2 separate regions of the Homo sapiens genome follow, and region 2 is linked to region 1. A link means that fine-mapping ties the variant in region 1 to the expression of a gene that starts in the linked region. Tissue or cell type: tibial artery. Region 1 holds a variant in brackets; the other region holds the start of a gene. All regions are shown on one strand. Distances are between the middles of the regions.

Region 1 (8,100 bases):
GAGGAAGGAAATACCCACGTCGTGAAATGCCCTCGGACGGGGCCACAGAGCAGGGGACAAAGGTAGCTCCCAGGGGACAGTCAGTCATGAAAACAGGCCCTCAGCCCTACAACCACAGGAAATACATTCTGCCAACAGCCTGGATGAACGCAAAGCAGACTCTGCCCCAGTTGGGCCTGCAGATGAGAACGCAGCTCAGCAAACACCTCAAATACAGCTTTGGGAGACCCTGAGCACAGACCAGCTAAGCTGTGCCTGGATGCCTGACCCACAGAAATGACAAGATCATAAATGTGTGTGTTTTGTGTTTTGGTTTGGTTTTTTGAGACAGGGTCTTGCCCTGTCAGCCAGGCTGGAGTGCAATGGTGCAATCGTATGTCATTGCAGTCTTGACTTCCTGATCTCAAGCAATCCTCCCACCTCAGACTTCCAAATATCTGGGACCACGACCACAGGCACGCACCACCACACCCAGCTAATTATTTTTTTCTTGTAGAGACGAGAGGTCTTCCTATGTTGTGTGATTTCAAACTCCTTGGCTCAAGCCGTCCTCCTGCCTCAGCCTCCCAAAGTGCTAGGATTATAGGTGTGAGCCACCCCACCTGGCCGTGTGTTGTTTTAAGTAGTTAAATTTGTAACACAATGCAGCATAGGAAACTAATACACATAGGATCACTCTGTGTGCTCCCAAGCCAAGAGAAAACATCCCGTTCTTCCTACCAACAGCAGACACTCTGCTCCTAATCTCTCCTTTGCTCATGCACTGATTTGCCGAGCACCAAGGCTGTGCCTGTCTCATCTAGGTGCCAGGTGTTATGGTCTTCCCATTGATCTCATGGTGAGACCACCCCTGACTTCTAAACAGGCTTATGGCTGCACCCCACAGCCTCCCTCGAAGGTAGATATGGCCACATGATGAGGATGAGGATGAAAAGTGATGTGTGTACCTTCTGAGCCTCTCCCTGCACAGACTGGGGAGTCTCCCCCTCCCCTGCCCCTTCCTGCTGGCTGGAGTGCGGCCCACTCTCAGCTCTCTCTGGGAATTACCCTTAGCAGAAGAGAGCTGGCTTGCACAGAGGCACACCTACACTGGGGGGCTATAGAGGCCAAGCCCCTCACTCCCACTTGGGACAACTGTGATGGCCCGTGCCAGCCTCAGAGACCCGGCAGGAGCATCTCAGCCACCTCCTCCCTCTGTTGGTCCTGCCTCTCCCTGAGAGCATGCCCAGGTCCTTCCTGTATGCAAATCTCCATCGCAGGTCTGCTTCCCGGGACCCTGCCCTGCAGCATGTGGACAAGGACCATCCTGGGACCCTGCCCTGCAGCACGTGGACAAGGACCACACACAAGGGGAATTGTGGAATGACAAATGAGAAGGTGCCCGGGCCACACCAGCTCGACCTTGGTGTGAGAGACTAAGACAGAAATCACCTTCCACCTCTGGCAGTCTCTGCCACTCTGATTGTCTTTGTTAGAGCACCCAAACCAATACTCTCATTAATATCCCAGGTTAATGATGCATGGGTGTTCAGCGTGGATGGAGTCCCGACCATCCTGGGGCACTTATAAAAATCCCTCCACACAGAAAACTGTGCCTTTCCAGGCTGAGTCCACTCGGATAGGGAGTGCTTCCTTAGTCTGTTTTCTGTTGTTGATAACACAATACCTGAAACTGGGCAATTTATAAAGAAAGGGAATTAATTTCTTACAGTTATGGAGGCCCCAAGTGGCACAGGGCATCCCATAGTGTGGAGGCTGACTGCTCACTCAGGTCTTTCTTCTTCTTCTTATGAAGCCACCAGTCCCACTCCCGTGATAACTGACCCACTCCTGGGATAACCATTAACCCATTAACCCGTTCATCCGTGAGCCCACCAATGTTAACCCGTTCATCTGTGAGTCCACCAATGGATTCATCTACTGATGATGGCAGAGCCCTCTCGACTCAATCACTTCCTCAAGGCCTCACCTCTCAATGCTGCCACTGTAGGGATTCGATTTCAGCATGGGCTTCGGAGAGGACAAACATTCAAACCCTAGCACGTCCCTTTCTCTAATTTGCAGAAAGACACCTCATGCCCTGGCCAAGCCCCCACTTCATGGGCTCGAAGACCCACAAGGGAGAAGGCAGTGAGGGCCCCTTCCTGCCCACAGGAAGCTCGGCACAGACTTGGGAACGCAAATGAGGTTGGTCACCGCATGAACGGGTGGCCCACAAAGAGTAGGAAATCCTTATAAGGAACTTCCTACACAGCCGCGTCTTGGCTGAGAAACATGCGGCTCACACAGACCCATGCGGTGCCTGCCTGAGTGGAAGGTTCCATTTTTAGGATGATTTTCGGACCACACGCGGCAGCCCTACGTGGGAAGCGGCAGAAGGGGGCTCCAGAGGCCGTCAGGAGGCCTCAGATCGTGGAATCTGTGCCAGCACCTTCAAGGGCTCTGCTTATGGGAAAGACCTGAAACTTCGTGGATCAAACGTTGGAAACACATTACAAAGTTTATTACACCAATACACATATTTTGTGCTGAATGCACAAACAGAGAAATAAAACTTGTTGATGAGCAGAGTGCTCTCTGCAGTGCTTCTCAGCGCACCTCAAGGTCAGGAGGTGCAGTGAGGTATGTCGTGTCATTTCTGACGAAGCAGCAGCAGGGCCGCGAGCACGCAGGGGCCACCAGCTGCCTCCAGCTGCAGGGGCCCTCGGCCCTCTCCTGCCCAGTGCTACACCCCTGGAGGAAACGCGCTGGGGTCCACGCACCTGGGACTTCTTGGTCTAGCCAGGGCCTGGTTCATGGAAGCGCTGAGTAAATGGGTGATAATTTGCTCATGGATTGTCCCTAAGCCAGGGCAGCTCCCTATCTGAACCAGTTTTAACAGAATCCATTGGAAATGTGTGTTGAATAACCTCAGGGCCCCTGCCGGATCCCTGGATCCCTTTTTACCATTTTTGTGCTCTCCAAAGCTTTGGAGTGTTTATACCTCCAACAGCCAGCACCAGCAGCTGCTTAAAGCAGTGGTTCCCAAACTTCTTGGCACCAGGGACTGGTTTCATGGAAGACAATTTTTCCATGGACCAGGCAGGGTGAATGGTTTCAGGACGATTCAACTTATTACACTTACCGTTCACTTTATTTCTATTATTATTACATTGTAATATCTAATGAAATAATTATACAACTCACTATAACGTAGAATCAGTGGGAGCCCTGAGCTTGCTTTCCTGCAACTGGACAATCCCATCTAGGGGTGATGGGAGACAGTGACAGATCATCTGACACGAGTTTCTCATAAGGAGTGCACAACCTGGATTCCTCGAATGACAGTTCACAATAGGGTTCGCGTTCCTAGGAGAATCTAATGCTGCAGCTGATCTGACAGGAGGGGGAGCTCAGGCCGTAATACCAGCGATGGGGAGCAGCTGTAAATACAGAGGAAGCTTCACTCACTCACCTGCTACTCATCTCCTGCTGTGCAACCGAGTTCCTAACAGGCCATGAACCAGTACCAGCCATATTTCAAAGGCTCAAAAGCCACAAGGGACTAGTGGTCACCATATCGGACAATGCAGATCTAGAACATTCCATCAGTGCAGGAAGCTTTATTGGGCAACTCTGGTCTGGAGTGTAAGCTTCATACGGGAAGGGATGCGTGTCCGTGCTGGTCACTGCCGTGTGACAGATCATCGTGTATTAGAATCTCATAAGGAGTGTGCAACCTAGATCCCTTGCATATGCAGCTCACGATACGGTCCACGCTTCTATGAGAATCTAATGCTGCGGCTGATCTGACAGGAGGCGGATCTCAGGTGTTAACGTGAGCCGTGGGCAGCAGCTGTAAATACAGGTGAAGCTTTGCTCACTCACCTGCTGCTCACCTTCTGCCGTGGCCCGGGGGTTGGAGACCTCTGGTTTAGAGGGTGGCCTGTGGGCTCTCTGAAGCCGCTTCACCCTCATGCACGGAAATGCCTGGGAATTTATACCTCCCTAGACCACGCTTAACCAAAGACAGGTGGGTTCTGGGTGGGTGTATGAAGACCTCAGCTCCCTGGTCTCAGGCTGGGACATCCCTGGGTGTGATTGACCCTCCACAGTTCCCCTGTGGGGTCGGGCATGCCCCGCCCACCCCAGTTCCTTCAGGCTGCAGAAGGACTGTGCCCACATAGCACCCTGCCCAGCTTCCTTCCTTTTCCAGTCCAGCTTCCCACCCCCAACCTGTGTCCCCAGGGAGTACTCCCTGAATAGTCGCTGCAAACACATCCTCATCCTAGGGGCTGCGTCTGGGCAACTGCTCCTAGGGAAAAGGTCTGGTTACGCAAGCAGATTCCTTGGCACACCGACCCACAGGAGGGAACCCATGCTGTGCCGCCGTAAAAGAAAAAAAAATAAAGAAGCGGCGAATTTGGTGACAGCTTTGGAAAATAGTATTTAGTGAGAAAAGCAAGGTGCGGAAGCCTGGGCTGTGGTATCTTTATTTTCTGAGCGGGGAAAGATAAAAGTGGACCGTATCTTGTATTTGCTGCCTCCCTAAAGAAAACAAGCCGGAAATACAAGAAGCCAATGAAAGCGGACACATAGGGCGCCAGAGCGGGGTAAGGGTT[C/T]CCAGGCTCTCTGTATGTTTGGATTATTGAGTCATGTGGATTTGCACAGATCCCAAAACCAAAACACAGATCCCTAGGCCCCGCCGTCTGGGAGTCTGACGCAGCTGCTCTGCGGTGAGGAGACAGAGGCTGTGTTCCCGAGAGGTTCCAAGGGGGACAGTTGCACCGCCAGTCTTGCGGACGTTGTTCTAGATGATTTCTTTGAGTGGTCTGAAACAAAGCCGAACCACTCACCAGCAGCGCTGTCTTCCTGGATGCAGCCAGCCCTGCTGGAAACGGGTGGGAAGGCTGTCTTCTTCACTCCCGGGGGCCTCTGAAGGTGGGCGTGAGTCAGGGGCTCCTGGGAGAAATCGACCGCCCTTGCCGGCCTCCACGGGCCCTGGAAAGCCTGAGAGCCTGGCGCTCCTGCCACATCCCCATTGCCATGGCAACGGCAGACACAATGGTTTCTGTGGAGTTCGGATCTATAAATAATTTCTAGATTAGTCTTGGCGAGGTGGATGGGGTGGGCACCGAGGGGAGGTTCCTGGTGGCCGGCGGGACGGGCCACTGTCCACAGGCCATGCCAGGCCTGGGGCAGCGAGGTCACAGCCTCCTGGGTCAGATGCTGTGCCCTGGCCAGTCGGCAGGAGTGGCCTCGGCAGGCTCCGCAGCAGTTTCTGCCCCAGAGACCATGCGTGGGACAGTTCCATCTCATCTGTGAGTCCCGGACATGTGTGGACCCAGGTTGGCTGCACAGGACCCAGGGTGGCTGGGTAGAGGGCTGTAAAAAAATCCCTGCTGCTGATCTGGGGACTGAGGGAGGCTCAGGGGTGGGAGTTGATCACCACCGTTTCTAGGCACTCACGAGGGCCCTGTTCAGTGTCTCGGCGTTGCTGGGTAGACCCTGGTGGGGTGACAACAGGATCTGAGTGTTTGGACTCCATTCTCTCTGCTTCCTCTGTCCACGTTTTAGGGATGCCCTATTCAATGAGCCCTCTCTCTCTCTTCCTTTTTTTTTTTTTCTTTTTCTAGCAGTGTTTCCAGGGAAGGGCTCATATTCCCCACACTAGGGGCTGAGAGGGTGGATGCTTCTGGGTAAATCATTTGAAAATCAAGCAGATCCAACACCTTTGCTGTCTCTGATTAGAGTGAGCTCGCTGGGAGGGGCCCCCAAAGGGCCCCTGAATGGCTACGTGCTGCATGGCGTTAGGAGTGAGGGGCATGACCCTGACACCGGGAGGGCAGGCGTGTGAGCAAGTGCAGCCTACGGGGAGGCAATTTAACCACAGCCCCGGCACTGACAACGGCAAATCCTCTTGCGCAGCAGTTCTCCTCCGAGGATTCTTCCTGAGTGAGGCACTGGCATAGGGGCACAAAGGCATATATGTGCCAAAGGCATGACCCACGCCATGCGTTGATTACAGCAGAGACTGAGAGCAGCCTCATGCCTGTTGGTGGAGAGGAGTGGAGAAGGACAGCCTACTCCCCATGCACTGAGAGCTCTTGTGCAGTCAGCAAAAAGCGTGGTGGCTCCATCCATGTGGACACAGAACAGCTTTCAAGAGAAATAAGAAGGGCTGGAAGTGGCAGCTCACGCCTGTAATTCCAGCACTTTGGGAGGCTGAGGCGGGCAGATCACCTGAGGTCAGGAGTTAGAGACAAGCCCAGCCAACGTGACAAAACCCTGTCTCTACTAAAAATACAAAAATTAGCTGGGTGTGGTGATGGGCACCTGTAATCCCAGCTACTTGGGTGGCTGAGACACGAGAATTGCTTGAACCCGGGAGGTGGAGGTTTGCAGTGAGCCGAGCTTGTGCCACTGCACTCCAGCCTGGAAGGCAGAACAAGACTCTGTCTCAAAAACAAAAAAAAAAAAAAGAGACAGAGAGAGAAATAAGAAGAACCAGAGGCACCCAGCGCATGGGCTGCTACTGTCTGTGTAGGAGGCCGAGTAATGTATCACACATGCACACCTAAGTGTGCATACACATATGTGTGCACGAGCACATATGCACACACATAGCTAGAAAAAGGGGCTCTGGGACCCTGAAGATTTGGGGTGGAAGGAAGCTTACTTTTCAGGACATCCTTTCCTGTACTGTTTGGTTGTGGTTGTTTAACCATTTGTGTATGTTAATTTTTCAATTAAAAATAGTTGAGCAAGGTGTGGTAGCATGCACCTGTCATCCTAGCTACTCAAGAAGCTGAGGTGGGAGGACTGCTTGAGCCCAGGGGCTTGGGTCTAGCCTGGGCAACATAGCCAGACCCCATCTCCAAAAAGAGTTTTAAAAATAGGTGAGTGGAAGTTTGGAGAAGAAGGAAGGAAGAGGAAAGGAGGCAGGAGGAAGAGAGAGAAAGGTGTACCCCGCACCGCGGAGGCAGCAGGTCCTCACCTGAATCTGTCTCCCCGTTTCCCAGCTGCGTGGCTGTGGACAAGTCACTCGGCCTCCCTGCGACACCACTTTCCTGCCTGTGAAATGGACTCACGGATAAACCAATCTCACCAAGTTGTTGCCAGGATCAAATAAGTCAAAAATGAGAAAGGATTTAGGAAACTGCAACGGGCATTTTCCCTTGAAAATGGCCCCTGGCTCTTGCACACGCACGTGTGCCAAACAGCTCAGATAATGATTTTCATTTATTCTAATCCTCAGGCTGCCTGAGCTGGGCTTCAGGGGTACGCTGTGGGAAGATCTGAGCACACAGGCCCCGCCGGGGTTCAGATCTGGAGACCCAGCAAGGGCTAATAAAACACAAACTAAATATTCCTCTGGCCTCCCCCACGGAGTGTTTTTCTCTGATTCCGGATCGGCCCTTGGGCTGTTAGAAAACATCTTCTGGGGACAAAGGGCAAGCGGTGAATTTGTGTCCCCTACAGAGAGGAGGGCTGGAGTTGTGGTTCTCTAAGAAGCCACGTGAACCAGAAGCAGCTCTCAGGGGCGGCGGCGTCTGCCCTCAGCCACGCTGGAGTCCACCCCAACTGGCAAGTGGAGAAAAGGAAGGAAAAAATGAGTCAAAAGGAATGGGAAACTGTGTTGCTCACATTTATGAAATGAATGTAGGTCTCCAACATATGCTCTGGCCTGGAGCATTGCTGTCTCTGCGTTAGTAGCTGGGCATGGCTGTGTTGACAGTGGCGGAGGAGAACTCACAGCAGTGGTGAACGTCAAATGTCAAATGTCATTAGAAACCAAGAAGGGGGCAGATTTAAAAAGAAAAAAAGCAGGGAATGCATTCCACCTTTAAACAGAAGGCTTGGGCAGGGTATGAAGCTCGAATCTCATACTTCAAAATGTTTTTGCATCTTGAGGAAACCGTACAGGAACTTGACTGTGAGGAGCTATAGGGCTGCCTGGTCATTTGGATGTGGCCATGTTCACATAAACACTCAGTGCTCGTCAGCTGGAGTTTTGGATTCAGGGAGATGGAAACAATTTAGACTTGGGGGTGTTTGAGGTCAGCGGTTATAAGTGAGTCTCAGGGTTTTTCCCACAGTTGATGAAAACAGTTTCTTTGA
Region 2 (8,100 bases), 48 kb after region 1:
AGAGAGCTGAGATCGCGCCACTGCATTCCAGCCTGGGTGACAGAGGGAGACCCTGTCTCAAAAAAAAAAAAATGCGGATTCCAAGGTCCTACCCCTAGGGACCCTGACTCCATACGTGGGGCCAGGCCTAGGACCCTCCACTTTAAATAAGACCCCGGGCCATTCCCACTGGGGAAATGCTGCATCTAGCCCCACACCAAAGACACCCGGGTAAGCAAGTCTGCCATGGACAAAAACGCCTCGCCGTGCAGAAACCGGGTCTGGACGTTGTTCGGGGCTGATTGCCCATTTATGACTCTAGGTGGACTTTGTCTGCAGTCATGGCTGGAAAAGCTGGCAAGCAACAGACACCTTTGCAAAAATAGCAAATAAACAATATGTCACATTTGTGGTTTCCTCCTGGGAGGGGCAGAGTCTATGGGCAATTGACTTAGGGCAGAATCCAATTCCAACATGAACTAACTGTGTGGCCCGGGCTGAAGCCCTTGACCATTCAGTATCTGCGTGATGGGAATTCAGTATCAGAAACAGCTCCATGGGGTTTTGTCAATTACACGAGGCTGTCAGGCACCGAGGCCTGGAGCCAGGACCCCATCAGGAAATTTAGGGATCCACTGGATTTATGGCCTCCATGCTCAGGGTGTCAGGTCCCAAACCTTCTCAATGACAGGAAAGCAGGAGTCAGGCCAAGGGAAGGAAGCGCACGTTGCAGCTAGAGACCACACACACCTTGGCAGCACCCCAGGGAGAGACAATTCCCTGCCGCGCCGGGCTTCTCTGCGCACTTCCAGCCCCAATCACTTAAGGAGCCCCTGTCCCACTCTGAGTCTTCTTCTGAGGCCTCTGTTGGTGTTGTCCTGCTCCTGGCTTGGCCTCCAGATCCCTCCTCTCGTGGGGTCCTAGGTCTGAAGGAAAAGCAAGATGGTGGCAGTCTGGGGGAAGAGCATGTGCTTGGGGTCCCTGTGGCCCATTTCTGGGCTTGGCCTGGTCACCTGCTGCAGTCGGTATCACTCATTCAGAACTAAGCAGTAACGCCAGGCGGGTCATGTCCTTCTTGTAAAATTGTTTGTTTGGGGAATTTGTGGTGAACTCCAAATCTCTCTCTCTCTCTCACAATTGATACTATTAGAGTCATTTGTGCTTGATTGCAGCTCTGTGGAAGGGACAGCCCCCACTTCTCCCCTCGCCTCTTTGTGGTTATTTGTAGGGCAGTCACAGGAAACCAATAAAATGGCATTTCCCCCTAAACATGAGTGTGGCTCTCAGCGCAACCCAGTTTACAATAAATAGTCTATCCTTGCCCTATAGGACCAGGCCTCAGGAAGGGCTTGGGGGCCTCAGAGGCAAATGACACCCAGCCCTTCAACCCTGCACAACCACAGACCTCACACCCAGTGGTAGCCAATTTGGCTGAACAGCACCCTAGACTGTGGGCTCCCCCTGGTGCTGGGCCCCCTCACAAGGAGGCAGGGCCCACCCTCCTGATCTAGCCTGAGCCCCTGAGTCCTCTCCCAACCTCCTCCCAGCGATCTCAGCCGCTCCAGCAAGGCGTGGGGCTGCTGTCCTTCAGCTGCCTCCCTCTCCAGAGGAGGAGAGGCGGCAGATGTCGAGGCAGAGGTGGAGAAAAGCTCCTGGCACGCTTGCAGCTGGGGTTACCTTGTGCACGGGCAGAGTCAGGGAAGCGGGAGACAGTAGGTGCCCTGTGTGGAAAACCAGAATCTCGGGGCCAGGACCCAGAGAATGCTGGAGGGCCCGGGAGGTCAGCGTCTGCCCTCTCCTTATGAGGGAGGCCCCCTCCTTCAGGCAGCCTGCCTGCTTCAGAGTGGGGAGTCCAGGTTGTCAGTTCTGTAGGGTCGATGGACCTGGTCTCATTTGCCTCTGAGGCCCCCAAGCCCTTCCTGAGGCCTGGTCCTGTAGGGCAGGGATTTCATATTTGTTGTGAACTGGATTGAGCTGAGCCACACCGATGTCTGGGGGGATATGACATTGTTTCGGTTTCCCTGGCTGCCCTACAAGTAACCACAACACGCGTGAGTGAGGGAGGGGTGGGGAGATGGGGGTAGGGGAGGGGTGGGGGGGGGGTGGGAGATGGGGATGGGGGAGGGGTGGGAGATGGGGGTGGGAGAGGGTCGGGGGGTGGGGGAGGGTGGGGGTTGGGGGTTGAAAACAATAGCAACTTACCCTCTCACAGTTCTGGAGGCCAGGAGTCCAAAGTCAAGGTGTGGGCATGGCTCTGTTCCCTCTGGAGGCTCTAGGGGAGGGTCCTCCCTGTCTCTTGCAGCCTCTGGTAGGCCCAGGCACTCCTTGGCTCCAATCTCTGCCATTCTTGCACATAGTCTCCTTTCCCCCGAAGTCTCTATGTGTTCTTTTCTGTATCTTGTAAGGACAGTCTCATTGCATGTAGGGCTCACCTTAATTCAGTGTGATTTTATCTTGACTCTTACCTTAATTATATCTGCAAAGACTCTTTTCCCAAATAAGGTCACATTCTGAGATTTGGGGTAGAGATAAACTTTGGGGGGACATGATTCAACCTACTAAGCCATTAAATCACAAAGAGCACGCAAGAAGGACCAAAAAGGCAGCGGGAAGTGGGGAGGACCTTGATCCAAGGACTTCCACAGCTCAGGCCTCCCTTGTTCCAGCCAGCAAGGGCTTTCCATGAGCACCTTTGACTTCCACTGCTAGCCAGGATGACGGGTTCCTGGCTGTCTTCTACAGATGAGGAAACTGAGGCTCAGAGGCCTCTGAATGCATAGCCAAGTTCACACAGTCAGCCACAGCTGGGACTGGAGCTCACTTGGTACCAAAGCCTGGGGGTTTCACAGCCAGCTCGGCTGGATTGAAGAAGCCCCACCCCCACCCCCAGCACTAATGAGGTTCCAAGATCTTTCTCCAAGGAGCTTGCTTTATCAATAAGAAATGAATCTTTTGTTTTGTTTTGTTTTTGAGACAGAGTCTTACGCTGTCACCCAGGCTGGAGTGCAGTGGCGGGATCCCCATTCACCGCAACCTCCCTTTCCCGGGCTCGGGCAATCCTTCCACTGCAGTCTCCCAAGTACCTGGGACTACAGGCACATGCCACCACATCTGGCTAATTTTTGTAGTTTTTGTAGAGATGGGATTTCGCCATGTTGCCCAGGCTGGTCTCGAACTCCTGGGCTCAAGGGATCTACCCTCGGCCTCCCAAAGTACTGGGATTACAGATGTGAGCCTCTGAGCCCAGCCAAACTGTCTTGATGTTCACGTTCTTTCACTACCTTAGATTATGAATTTTGGAATGTGGCCAGTTCCCTGGAATCACATTAAGAAGTGAGGTCCAGGACAACGACGATTAATTTAATTATTAATAGAAATCAGCCTAGACCTGGGAAATAAGATGAGGAGACCCAACTGTCCCCAGCCTTGCCCTTGTGCCCATGTGGGAGGCCATCCTGACTCCATTTAGATTTTTGCTTCTTCCTACACTGACAAAGAACACTGGGGCAGCTCCAGGGAAATGTGCCCAAGGTGTGGAGGGGGCTGGGGGAGTGGAGAGCAATTTTTTTTGTTCCCAACCATGCCTTTCTGCAATCTCTGTTCATCCTCGAAGACCTAAGACTGGAGAATGTGGGGTTTGTTTGTTTTGGAGCGACTGGGGCGGGGAGGGGGGGTCTCACCATGTTGCCCAGGTTGGTCTTAAACTCTTGGCCTCAAGCGATCCTCCTGCCTCGGTCTACCCAGTAGCTGGAACCACAGGCGTGCCAGATTCGGCTGAAGAGTTTTGTTAGGAAGTTTTCAGCACCTTGGACCATATCCTGAAAAAGTTCATTCATTGATTTAACCAATCTCTAGTGTGCACTGCCCAGAACCAGAGTGTAAGCTCCACAGGGTAGGGAGGGCGCCAGCTTTGCTCTCAGCTGCCCCCGGGCGCTTGGGACCTGGAACCCATGAATGAACAGACCCCGTTCTAGATCAACAGACATTCAAAGCAGCGCTCTAGGGGAAGGGCAGGGGAGGAATGAGCGTCCAGCCCCCGCGGCTCTACTTCTATGCCTGTGTGTAAGTGGTGGGATTTAAAGGTGGTTGGGTGCACCGGCCCTTCCCCCACCTGCAATCCGGTGCCAATGCAAGTGCCAGGGGAGGGTGGCGTTTCTGTTTACTTCCAGCCAGGTCAGCTCCCTTGCCCCCTCCCCTGTGTTTGCATTTTCTGCGTTTGGCGAGCTGGTGAAGTAGCCGCGGAAAGAAGGCGGATTTAAAGGCTCCATTTGGACGAGGCTTTTGGAGAAAGCTTGCACCTCCCATCACACCCCCAGGGCAAGTCAGCCGCCTCAAAAGTGCCGGTGCCGGCCCTCTGTGAGCTCAACACCTTCGCACAAACCTCGGGGGCGGTTATTATTACCCTCTTTTTCCCGGGGAGGCGCCTGGGGCTCAGAGAGGCCAAGTGACTCGCCCAAGGTCACACAGCTTTGCAGTGGCCGACCCGGGATTGGAACCCGGGGCTCCGGACCCCGCGGCGGCCGTTTCTCGAAGATACCCACTACCTCCCTCTTACACCGCTCAAAAATAAAGCAGGAAGGCCGAACGCCCCGTTTTCGCCGAAAAACAATGCTCCACGCAAATTTGCGGGAACAAAAGCAACCAGAAATCCAGCCCGGGTTTTCCGCCTCTCCGATTCCGCGGACCAATCGCGTCTTGACGGCCGCCGAGGGACGGGAGGCGGTGGCCCCAACATGATCGACAGCCCCCAGGGAGGCGTGGCCGCGGAACGGGCGAATGGGATTGGGGACCCGGCACAATCACGGGCCGAGAACGGGCCGCCTGAGCCAATCAGTGGGGGGGGGACGGGCCCGGCAGGCCCGGGCTGTCGCGAGAGGCGGCCACCCCGCCCACTTCTGCTGATCCCGGCCGCCCGTCAGCCGCGAGCGCGACGATCCCTCCGCTCCTCGGCCGGCGCCTCCTCCGCCGTCGCCGTCGCCGTCGCCGTCGCCGTCGCCGCCGCCGCCGCGCTCGGGCCCGGATCCGTCCGCCGCGCGGGAGCAGCAAGGCCGGCAAGTCCCGGCCGGATCCCTCCGCGCCTCCCGCCGCGCGTCCCTCCCCCTCCAGCGTCCGTTTCGCGGCCGCGGCCCCCAGCGCTCCCCAGGCGGCGACGCCGCGCCCGCGGCCCGGGGTAACGGCCGGCCTGGGCGGAGGCGCGGGCGGCGGCGACGGCATGGCCGGGGCGGCTCCGTCGGGGGGCGGCCCGCAGTGACAGACCCTGCGGCGCGGGGGGAGATGGGGGCGGCCGCCTCCCGGGCGACGACGACGACGACGACGAGGAGCAGCCGCCGCCGCCGCCGCGCACCGGCCGCCGCTGGGCACGGGCGCGGGGAAGGCGCCTCCCCGTGAGCGGGGGGCCCGAGGCCGCTCGCCGCCCCCGGCCGCCCCGGCCGCCCCGGGCCCCCCCGGCGCCCCGCGCGCGCCCGCCCGCCGGCCCCTGACGGGAGCCTTGCCCGGCCCCGGTCCCCGCCCCCGCCCCGGCGCCCGCCCGGCCCGCGGCGCCCGCGCGCCCTCGCCCGGACCCGGCCCCGGCCCGCGCGTCCCCGGTCCCGGCGCGCCCCGGCCGCGGCCCCCGGCGCCCCCCGGCCGCCCCCGCGCGGTCCCCGGCCCCGGGTCGCGGCGCGGCGCGGGCGGCAGCATGGTGGAGAAGCGCTGCCCGCTGCAGAGGGACGGCGTGTACCGCTGGTTCTCGGAGCTGCCGTCGCCGCAGCGCGTGGAGTTCCTGTGCGGCCTGCTGGACCTGTGCATCCCGCTCGAGCTTCGCTTCCTCGGCTCGTGCCTGGAGGACCTGGCCCGCAAGGACTACCACTCGCTGCGCGACTCGGAGATCAAGGCCAACAACCCGGCCGACCTGGGCAGCCTCACCAACCTGACGGACGAGGTGGTGCGCAGCAAGCTGCTGGTGTCGCTGGCGCTGCTGGGCTCGGAGCAGCGCGAGGCGGCGGGCGTGCTCTACCGCACGCTCACGCACATCGACTCCATCATCCACAACTACGGGCTGCAGCTTAACGAGGGCCGCACGGGCGATGAGTTCCTGCTGCTGTTCACCATGGCCTCCAACCACCCGGCCTTCAGCTTCCACCAGAAGCAGGTGCTGCGCCAGGAGCTCACGCAGATCCAGAGCAGCCTGAACGGCGGCGGGGGCCACGGCGGCAAGGGCGCGCCCGGGCCGGGCGGCGCGCTGCCCACTTGCCCAGCCTGCCACAAGGTGCGTGCCCGCCCCGAGCTCTGCCCTGTACCCCAAGTCTGCATCCCCAACTCTGCACTCCAAGCCTCCAGCCTGCACCGCGACCCCCCGACCCACGCCTCCAGCCTGCACTGAGAGCTCCCACCCAGGTCTCCAACCTGCACCACGAGCCCCCAGCCCGTATCCCAAGCCCCATCCTAAGCCTCTATGTCGCACCCCAAATGTGTGCCCCACCTCTCCAAGCCTCCACCGTACATCCCAAGCCTCCGCCGTACATCCCAAGCCTCCGCCGTACATCCCAAGCCCCCATCCTAAGCCCGCACTCCTCACCCTAAGTCTGCACTTTAAGCCCCAAGACCGCACCGCGGCCCTGAGCCCACACCCTCAGTCCCCTCTGCGTGCCCCAAAGCCTCCACACCTCCGCCTCGCGCCCCTTGGGCAGGAGCGGCTGCAGGGGCCCTGGGTCCGAGGATCCGCGGGAGCGGTGCGGGAGACGTCCGCGGTCAGAGCTCACAGTCCCAGGTGCCCTCCTTTCACTTAGCCGGCTGCAAACGCGATAAGGCCTTTGTCCCCTTAATGGGGCCCTTGGGTGACAGATAACACACATTGCGGCGCCTTGGTTTCCCCAAATCTGGTATTTATTACCAGAAAAGGAAGGAGCCGTGGCCACGCCAGAAGCCGCCGGTGAGGTGAACATTGCAAGGCGCTGGGGCTTCCCCGTCTGAGCCGCTCCCTCCACACAGGTGGAGGCCCTGCTTGGGGCCTGTGTCGCTGGGGGCCTGGGCGCGGGACATGGCTGTCCGTGTGAGCTCATTTATGGACACGTGCATGCTGTATGATGTACGCGTGTGTCGCATGTGGGCATGTATATGTGCACACGTGTGTATGAATGTGCACATGCTTGTGAACGTTGTGTGTGATCGTTTTTAAGAGCCGGGCTACCTGTAACAGACAGAAAAAGACTCCCAGAGCCTTAAATGCCCGTGAAACCTATTTATTGGCGACCCTTAGAAACAAAACCCAGGCTGACTTTGAGTGGGAGGGCACCGATGCCTTAAGGAATGTTAGGTTAGGTTAAAGATCTCCGGTCTCCAAATTGAACCGGAAGGGCGTCCTGGCCATCCACTTAGCGATGTGAACTTTTGTCTAAGTGTTTCAGAACTGAAAACGCAAAGTGTCTGGGGCTCCAGCTATTTTGAACAGCCCCCTGCAATCCAGTGCCAAAATTTTGCTGCCGGAAGAGATTACTTTGACCTGGTGTGATGTGTATTTAGATTACAAACTGATTATTTTTTGGAAGGGAATAGGTTGCAGTCGGGACCAAGTCTTGCTCAGTGTCTCTTTGCAGTGTCTTTAAGCTCTTTGAAGTTAAAACTTTGATAAGACTTTGCTTTTATGAGTGGCTGAGAACACCGTCTGGTTTGCTAGGTTTTTTATGTGTGTGTTTTTAAAGCTGTCTTTCAATCGTAGATTGTGGCTTTTCTTTTTTAATGTCTTCCTGTAAGAAGTGGTTGTAGTACATACATCGGTTTTTTTAAATTGATTTTTGTGTGTGTGACATTTACCTCCAAGACTATAGTTTTCTTTTTAAGTTCGGCTCCCACCCTGTATTTCAGGCTGTGTGCTGTGCAGAGGGTCCTAGGAAATGTAGTTGTTTATAGTAATCCATGTAAGCCTTGACATGCCAGCAAATTGTCACCTATTCATGGAATCTCAGTCATTTATGGTCAGTTTCATGTGCTGTTACTCCTTTGTGTAGATTCCACCCACTAATAATTTCTATGGCTGTTGCTACAGTAACGTCATCTCTTTAAGGGGATTCTTAATGTGTGAGCACGGGTGCCTCACTTTATGCAGACAGTGGTGATTATTATTTTGATTGGGCAGTGAGCTAA

What was found. PIP is the estimated chance that this variant, and not a neighbour inherited with it, causes the effect.
Region 2: ZCCHC14 starts here. The variant in region 1 is fine-mapped to the expression of ZCCHC14 in tibial artery (GTEx, PIP above 0.99).

Annotation. Positions count from the first base shown.
Region 1 is chr16:87,538,228-87,546,327 of GRCh38, reverse strand. LOC124903748 (a long non-coding RNA gene) reads right to left here and starts at 7,426. Exons shown (of 2, transcript XR_007065170.1): 1 at 6,977-7,426; 2 at 4,455-5,065. RefSeq lists enhancers at 3,499-3,999, 4,000-4,500 and a silencer at 6,108-6,339. The variant C/T (reference allele first, on the strand shown) is at 4,602.
Region 2 is chr16:87,489,795-87,497,894 of GRCh38, reverse strand. It overlaps ZCCHC14 (zinc finger CCHC-type containing 14), which reads left to right and starts at 4,871. Exons shown (of 13, transcript NM_015144.3): 1 at 4,871-6,226. The coding sequence starts at 5,657. ZCCHC14-DT (ZCCHC14 divergent transcript) reads right to left here and starts at 3,708. Exons shown (of 4, transcript NR_110943.1): 1 at 3,660-3,708. RefSeq lists a silencer at 4,753-4,932.